2 linked regions of the Homo sapiens genome follow. The protein of the gene in region 2 purifies or fractionates together with the protein of the main gene of each other region. This does not show direct contact. Each region holds a gene or a part of one and is shown on either strand. Other genes may lie near its edges.

Evidence for each region.
Region 1: the proteins of WIPF2 (region 2) and ZFAND5 fractionate together in Homo sapiens (co-fractionation; one large-scale study listed by BioGRID). This does not show direct contact.

What each region holds. Positions count from the first base shown.
Region 1 is NC_000009.12:72,354,920-72,358,736, forward strand, and holds part of ZFAND5 (AN1-type zinc finger protein 5), read right to left. Parts: intron 2,138-3,817; coding exon 2,012-2,137; intron 1,183-2,011; coding exon 1,034-1,182; 3' UTR 1-1,033. UniProt on the Homo sapiens protein: Involved in protein degradation via the ubiquitin-proteasome system. May act by anchoring ubiquitinated proteins to the proteasome. Plays a role in ubiquitin-mediated protein degradation during muscle atrophy.
Region 2 is NC_000017.11:40,222,077-40,225,893, reverse strand, and holds part of WIPF2 (WAS/WASL-interacting protein family member 2), read right to left. Parts: intron 1-3,817. UniProt on the Homo sapiens protein: Plays an active role in the formation of cell surface protrusions downstream of activated PDGFB receptors. Plays an important role in actin-microspike formation through cooperation with WASL.

The sequences.
Region 1 (3,817 bases), on a different chromosome or scaffold from region 2:
ATATGATAAAGCAGCCCTCTGCAAGTGGTGCTGGATACCACTAAGAAGTCTACTGCAGCCATGTTGGTTATGATTTTCCATGCAGAAGGGTACAGTTACATTAAGAACTGAAGTCTTTTAAAAAGCTTTAAACATTCTTTCTTGAACCAAAACATTCGACAAAAGATGCACATGAAAAATTATTCAGATACCTTTGCAACTTAAAATTCAGATGCATGTTATTCAATAGAGCTGCTGTATGTGAAAACCAAACGTAGAGTTTAAATTTCTTCTTGTAAACAAATTAATCCTAGTGCAGTTCTGTGCTACACATTTTTAGCAATGAGTAATGCAGACATCTTCTGGTGCAGGCCAGTACAATAAGCTTCAAAGGTTATCTCAAGACCCTGTTGTTGGCTTGATGGTTTTACTTATAACCAGTTTCGATGTTTACCTTTCACAGAATGTCTTATTTGACAGCTTTAGATGACCAATTTAACCAGGCTTATATATGGCGCCAAATACTGGTTTCACGGGAAAGAAGGTCTGATCCTCTTTATGAGCATTTCTTCCTGCTTCCAAAGAATATGTTGTGAAATTAAAGAGGGTGAAGTTTAACTATGGTAGAAGTAGACTGCCAGTCCTTTTCTGGTGTACCATTTTAAAAAAATACAGGCACATAACACTAGCCAAAGATTATACCTTGATTACATTCCCAAAAGGCAGATATGCTGCAAACATGCAGAGATTTCATTTATTTTGTTTGGCACATGGGAACTACATTTTGTTCCTATTATCTGTGTGTTTCACTTTGCTGTGCAGATTTTCATCCAATTTTTTTCAGGGGAGGGCATATACATTTGTAGGGCTGTATCTATCCAATTCTGCCTGTAACAAACACCCAAACATCCTAAAATATCAATTATAAGACAGACAAGTGTAATGTAAAACTCTGGAGAACATCAAAGAAAAATGGCCATGCATCTGCTCTTTAATGTTTTCCTACGATATATTAAAATAAAAACAAAGTTTCAGTCTCTTCACAAGAAGTAATTTATATTCTCTGAATTTTTTCAGCCACAACAACTGGATTCTCTTTTCTGATTTTTGCTGCAGCTTCTGCTTTGTAATCATACGGACAGTTGTGCTTGTCAGAGTAACGGTGAAGTCCACAAAACAAATTTCCACATCGGCAGTCAAACCCTGTACAAACGAAGAAGTAGAGTCATTTGAGAACTTGAGGCAATTAAAAGAAAAAAAAGCCTTAGTCACTATAGAAAAGGAACCAGATTTTCATTGCTTTGTAACATAAAAGACAGTGAACTCTTTTCTTCCACTTCCTGGTGATAAGACACAGTCAACTCTTACAGAGTCTATCACGTTAACCTGGAAAAGGAACTTTTAACTTCCTTTGACATGGTGAGAAATTCAAATAACTATGTTCAGTCTTTCCTTGCAAGGGCAATAGCGAAGTGTTTGGTAAGCCAAACCACGTGGAGAAAACAAAATGGGCTATCTGCCAGCTAATTTCTCCCAGATGCTCTCCCTCTATCGACTCCTGTAGATGCAACGCAGGATAAAATTTACACAGGCTCTGGAGTTAGGCTAAGCTGGATTCAAAACACAGTCCTACCATATCTTAAGTAATGCTTCCTCAAGTGAAAACAACCATCAAGGTCTGAGATTTGAAGGAGACAAGAAAAAAAGCACCAAGAACATTCCCTGCATAGCTCAAAGTAGGTGGCGCTTACTGTTAGTTCAGTAACATTTTCCCTAGGTATACAAAAACTTTTTATCAATCTAATAAAATAAGAGGGCCTGAGTTAATAGTTTTATATGATTAGGAGACAAATGGAAGTAAAACCCAACTTCTTTCCACCCCAATACCACCTCCTCCACCTTTCCTAGACTACAGCTAGTCAGGCTTTTTTTTTTTTTTTATGTGTAAGACCAACTAGTCTCTTAGGGAGTGACCAAAAGCTCCTTGTTAACTGCAGAAGTAAAACATACATTGTCTTGTGTTTTGTAATACCTGTAAGACCAACTTTCTTTCTGCACATGAAACATCTGTTTTTCTTTGGTTTGGGCAATTCAGGAGCTTTTTCTTCACTCTGAGAAGTACTGGGCTGAGAAACTGATGGACTGGGCTGAGTGACAACTGAAAAGGACAAAAACACAAATTTGTCAAGCATTCACTGGCTAACATTTTTAAGTCAAAAAAGGAAGTATTTAAGAGAAACAGGAAGATGCCTGATAAAAATGTTTATAAGTATTCCTTGAAAATACAAGCTTTAAACAGAATCTTCCATTTTAACATCAGAACTTGATTCAAATCTGAGAAATTCCTGCCAATCACCATACTACTTGCTTCTCTAATTTTGTAAAATGATCGCTTCACTCAAGAAATTCCTTTAAAACACTGGTAACAGCCAGTACTAAAAACAAAATCCTAATTCTGTTTTAAAGAGCTGGGAGATGTTAATCATATGCTCAGTTTTTCCACGTTATAATTTCCTAAATGCAAACTTTTCAATCAGGGCAGTTCAAATTCATTACATCACAGTAAATAACAGTAGCCAACTTTGATTTTATGCTTATAGGAAAAAAAATCCTGTAGATATAAAAACAGCAAATTTTGACAAATAAAACTCAAACCATTCATCCCTAAATCAACGTCAGATCCAAAAATTCCAAAACAATCATTTTACCATTTTCACAGGTGCACTAAACATCATAGGAAGACTTGAAAGATTTTTTTAAACCTTGGTTTTAAAAACAGATCGGCAAACAGTCTTTAGAAACTACTCGAGAAGTATTGATTTTAAACTATTAAGGATTCCACAGGCAGAACAAGAATCTTATCTAAAATGGGCATCCACTATCGACAGAGATAGCATCTACAAACAGTCCCACCGTTTCTCCACCTAAAAAGGCTTTAAGTTTCAGTGTACACATGGCATCAATAAAATTTCTCACAATGAACAAAAAATACATTACTGTACTAAAGCCCACACTGCCACTAGTTCTTTAACACAAAAATAACAAAATTTATATCTACTTACATATAATTCAACTACACCTGAAACACTATAAACTCAGGTTTTAATATTAATCCAAATGTAACAATAGCAAATTTATGTATGCAATGCTGAAATTACTGCCCAAATATGCCAGCACCAATGCTATTAGCATATAGACAAGCTCCTACAACAAGCTGATTGATTTAATGGCAATTTTCTCTAAAACTCTGCCCAAATTTATAATTCAATTGCATTAGCAATGAATCTACTGGGAGAAATAGCCTAATATTAGACTAAACGAACAATATTCTACCTACTGCTACTGTGACAACATTAATGTTTATCCTGATGTCATGAGGATAAAGAATAATCTAGGGGAATAGTTGTATGGGGTAGAGGGAGGGTGTCAGCCATTTCTTTGGCCACATCTGAAAAATGAACTACGGCTCCTGAGACAAGGGAAGAAGGGGGAATAAGAAAATGACACAGAAAAGGCAAATAGCAGTGAATCACAGAATGCCTACTAAGTAATAATAAATGCAGACTAGCTCTAACCCAAGACTATTCTTCCAAGGTCAGAGTAATTTTGTATTTAAAAACCAAAACCAAAAACAAAAACCCAAACAAAGGCATCACGGGCAAACTAATGTGGTCAGTTTAAGGATGGAGCTCATTTCAAAATGCCAAATATAGATTCACCTGCCAAACTTGAGAATTTGGCCTTAACTTTGTAAGATTAATACAATAAACAAACTTGACTGCTGTTAGCAAAAGCCAGCCTCCAAAGCAGACTGTATAACCACTGACAGTATTTTTTC
Region 2 (3,817 bases):
GGGAGGCCGGCAAAAGTTCAAGACCAGGCTGGGCAACATGGCGAAACCCCATCTCTACAAAAAATAAAAATTAGTGAGGCATAGTGGCGTGCGCCTGTAGTCCCAGCTACACAGGAGGCTGAAGTGGGAAGAACACCTGAGCCTGAGCCTGGGGAGGTCGAGGCTACAGATCACGCCGCCACACTCCAGCCTGGGCAAGAGAGAGAGATCCTGTCTCAAAATAAAAAGGGAATGATCTTCACGATCCATCCCAAAACATATTGGAGATAACCCTACCTTTAGCTAACTATCCCCTGAAAAACAAGAGAGTATTTACTAAGTAGAACACATTGTTGGATAGCCATTCCAAATTGCTCTAACTTTGCCAAGCTTAAATGGCAAGGAAGAAACCAATTCCTGGCTCCCCTATTTGATAACTTACATACTTCTGCAGGCTCTTAAGCCAAAATGAGCCAAAATCTTAAAGAGAGTTAAGACTGACATAGACATTAGCAAACATATCACCTTTTTTTCCTATTAACATTGTTGTTCCCCATAAAGGTCTATTCAGCATTTTTTTTTTAGTAGCCCTCTGTAGATATCAAGAAATGCTCATAAATTTAGCCTGTAGTTCCTCAGGCTCAATGGCTTGTGAGAAAAGAAAAAAAAAAAAAAAGTTGGAAATACTGTCTTCTCTTCCACAATGCCCACGAAGCTAGGCAAAGGCAATGATTCTGCATTTAATCACTAGATGAATAAGAAACAGACTTGAATTTAGAAGAAAGATAAAGGACCGCAAGAACATTCAGTAAAGAGTACTGCCTCTATTTCTTTGCAAAGCAGCTCTCAGGATCTGCCAATGAACCTCATTTTGACATGGAACGCCCCATCCACTCTAATCCGGGGCATATCCCTCAAGACACAGTCAGTCAACCGGAACTCTGCCAACTTTTGCTTGGGAGTTGTGTGAAGAATAGTAGCAACAAGAGCCTACTTTGAGAAGGAGATCAACAATCACACTCAAGAAGAAAAGAAGTTATTTGGCAAAGGGATGCATGTTGCCAAAATGTTAGTCACAGCTTCAAGGGCCCAGTTTGTGTCTCTACAACTATTCTTTGCTTTGACAGAGGCCATTATCTGACCCAGGAAACAGCTCAGCTTCTGTCACCCTCCCCATCTGAAGCAGTGAAGAATCCTTTCAATTTGGTAGTATCAAACTGTGACACAGACAAGATGTCCACCAGAGACTAAAAGGGGAGAAAAAATGTGTAATTTGCCACTTTCTACATAGGACTGGCTCAAGCAGAGCAACGGAAAACTGTGACAGGATAGGAAAAATGGAAAATCATTATGTTAAAGAAGCAGGCTGGGCCGGGCGCGGTGGCTCACGCCCGTAATTTCAGCACTTTGGGAGGCCGAGGCGGGTGGATCACAAGGTCAGGAGATCAAGACATCCTCGCTAACAAGTTGAAACCCCGTCTCTACTACAAAAAAAAAAAAAAAAAAAATACAAAAAATCAGCCGGGCGTGGTGGCAGGCGCCTGTAGTCCAGCTCCTCAGGAGGCTGAGGCAGGAGAATGGCGTGAACCTGGGAGGCGGAGCTTGCAGTGAGCCGAGATTGCGCCACTGCACTCCAGCCTGGGGGACAAAGTGAGACTCCGTCTCAAAAAAAAAAAAAAAAAAGAAAAGAAAAGAAAAAAAAAATAAGCAGGCTGTACCAAAAGTCCGCCCAGGAGCACCGAGCCTCCATATGTTATCTCAAAATCCCCTTAAAAAACAAACCAAAAAGGTACACTGTAGGTTGCAATAGCATAATATTAAGCAGGTTTTTACTCCCAAATAAGTACATATATTTTGTAGCCTGCAACTCTTCCTGGGGTTGTAAGAAGACTATGTTTGCTGAAGCTGCCTGAACCAAGAGCCCATGAATTTCACAGTTATTTCAGAGCAGGAAAACAGACTAACATATACCAGGTTACTCTCCCAATCAGAGAACACAAGTAAAGAAAGAACATTTAATAATTTTCTCGGGCCGGGCGCGGTGGCTCACGCCTGTAATCCCAGCACTTTGGGAGGCCGAGACTGGCAGATCACAAGGTCAGAAGTTCGAGACCAGCCTGACCAACACAGTGAAACCTCGTCTCTACAAAAATACAAAAATTAGCCAGGCGTGATGGCACCCAGCTACTCAGGAGGCTGAGGCAGGAGAATCGCTTGAACCTGGGAGGTGGAGGTTGCAGTGAGCAGAGATCATGCCATTGCACTCCAGCCTGGGCAACTGAGCGAGACTCCGTCTCAAAAAAAAAAAAAAAAAACCCAAAAAAAAATTTTCTCTTCAACAGAACAAGACTTCTGTCTCTTGCCTCTTGCCTTTTTTTTTTCCTAAAAACACCTAGTGAGTCTAGAATCTCTTCCCTTCGTAAAAGCCATCAGTAAAACCTGAAAACTCCAATGTTCACACCTCTCCTGCATTTCACCTTGGTGCTATCACATAACTTATCAGTACCAGCTAGGGTAAACACTACTCTAGTATCAAGTGTGAGGTGGAATTAGTAAATGACCAGCCTGGCCAACATGGCAAAACCCTGTCTCTACTAAAAATACAAAAATTAGCCAGGTGGCACATGCCTGTAATCCCAGCTACTTGGGAGGCTGAGCCAGGAGAATTGCTTGAACCCAGGAGACAGAGGTTGCAGTGAGCCAAGATTGTGCCATTGCACTCCAGCCTGGGCAATACAGCAAGACTCTGTCTCAAAATAAATAAATAAACAAATAAAAAAACAAACACTACATTCTACTAGTCTTCATCAATTGACTTCATTCATCTCCACCTTCCCCAACTCTTAACTTCCCTATCTTCATCTTGATGGCAACCAATGTAACACAATATGAAATTTTTACTTTTAAAAGTTGACATTAATAAGAGTTAAAAAACTAAACATGCGGCCAGGTGTGGTAGCTCATGCCTGTAATCTCAACACTTTGGGAGGCCGAGGTGGGTGGATCACCTGAAGTCAGGAGTTCGAGACCAGCCTGACCAACATGGTGAAACCCCATCTCTACTAAAATACAAAAAATTAGCTGGGCGTGGTGGTGCATGCCTATAGTACCAGTTACTTGGGGGACTGAGGCAGGAGAAGCGCTTGAATCCGGCAGGCGGAGGTTGCAGTGAGCCAAGACTGCGCCATTCCACTCCAGCCTGGGCAGCAGGAGCGAAACTCTGTCTCAAAAAAAAAAAAAAAAAAAAAAAAAAAAAAAAACTGAATATGCATCAAATCAAAACCAGTTCTTCCCTGGCTGGCACGCAGACACACACACACACACACAAACACACACACACATGAGCAAGGCTAAGAGGAAGAAACAGAAAAACATGTTTCCTTTTGTTGTTGTTGTTGTTGTTGTTGAGGTGGAGTTTCGCTCTTGTTGCCCAGGCTGGAGTGCAATGGCGCGATCTCAGCTCACTGCAATCTCAGGTGATCCACCACCTTGGCCTCCCAAAGCGTTGGGATTATAGGCATGAGCCAGCGCGCCCAGCCTTGTTTTCCTTTAAGAGACAGGTCGGCCAGGCGCGGTGGCTCACACCTGTAATCCCAGCACTTTGGGAGGCCAAGGTGGGCAGATCACGAGGTCAGGAGTTCGAGACCAGCCTGGCCAATACGGTGAAACCCTGTCTCTACTAAAAATACAAAAATTAGCTGGGCGTGGCAGCACGCGCCTGTAATCCCAGCTACTTGGGAGGCTGAGCCAGGAGAATTGCTTGAACCCAGGAGACAGAGGTTGCAGTGAGCCAAGATTGTGCCATTGCACTCCAGCCTGGGCAATACAGCAAGACTCT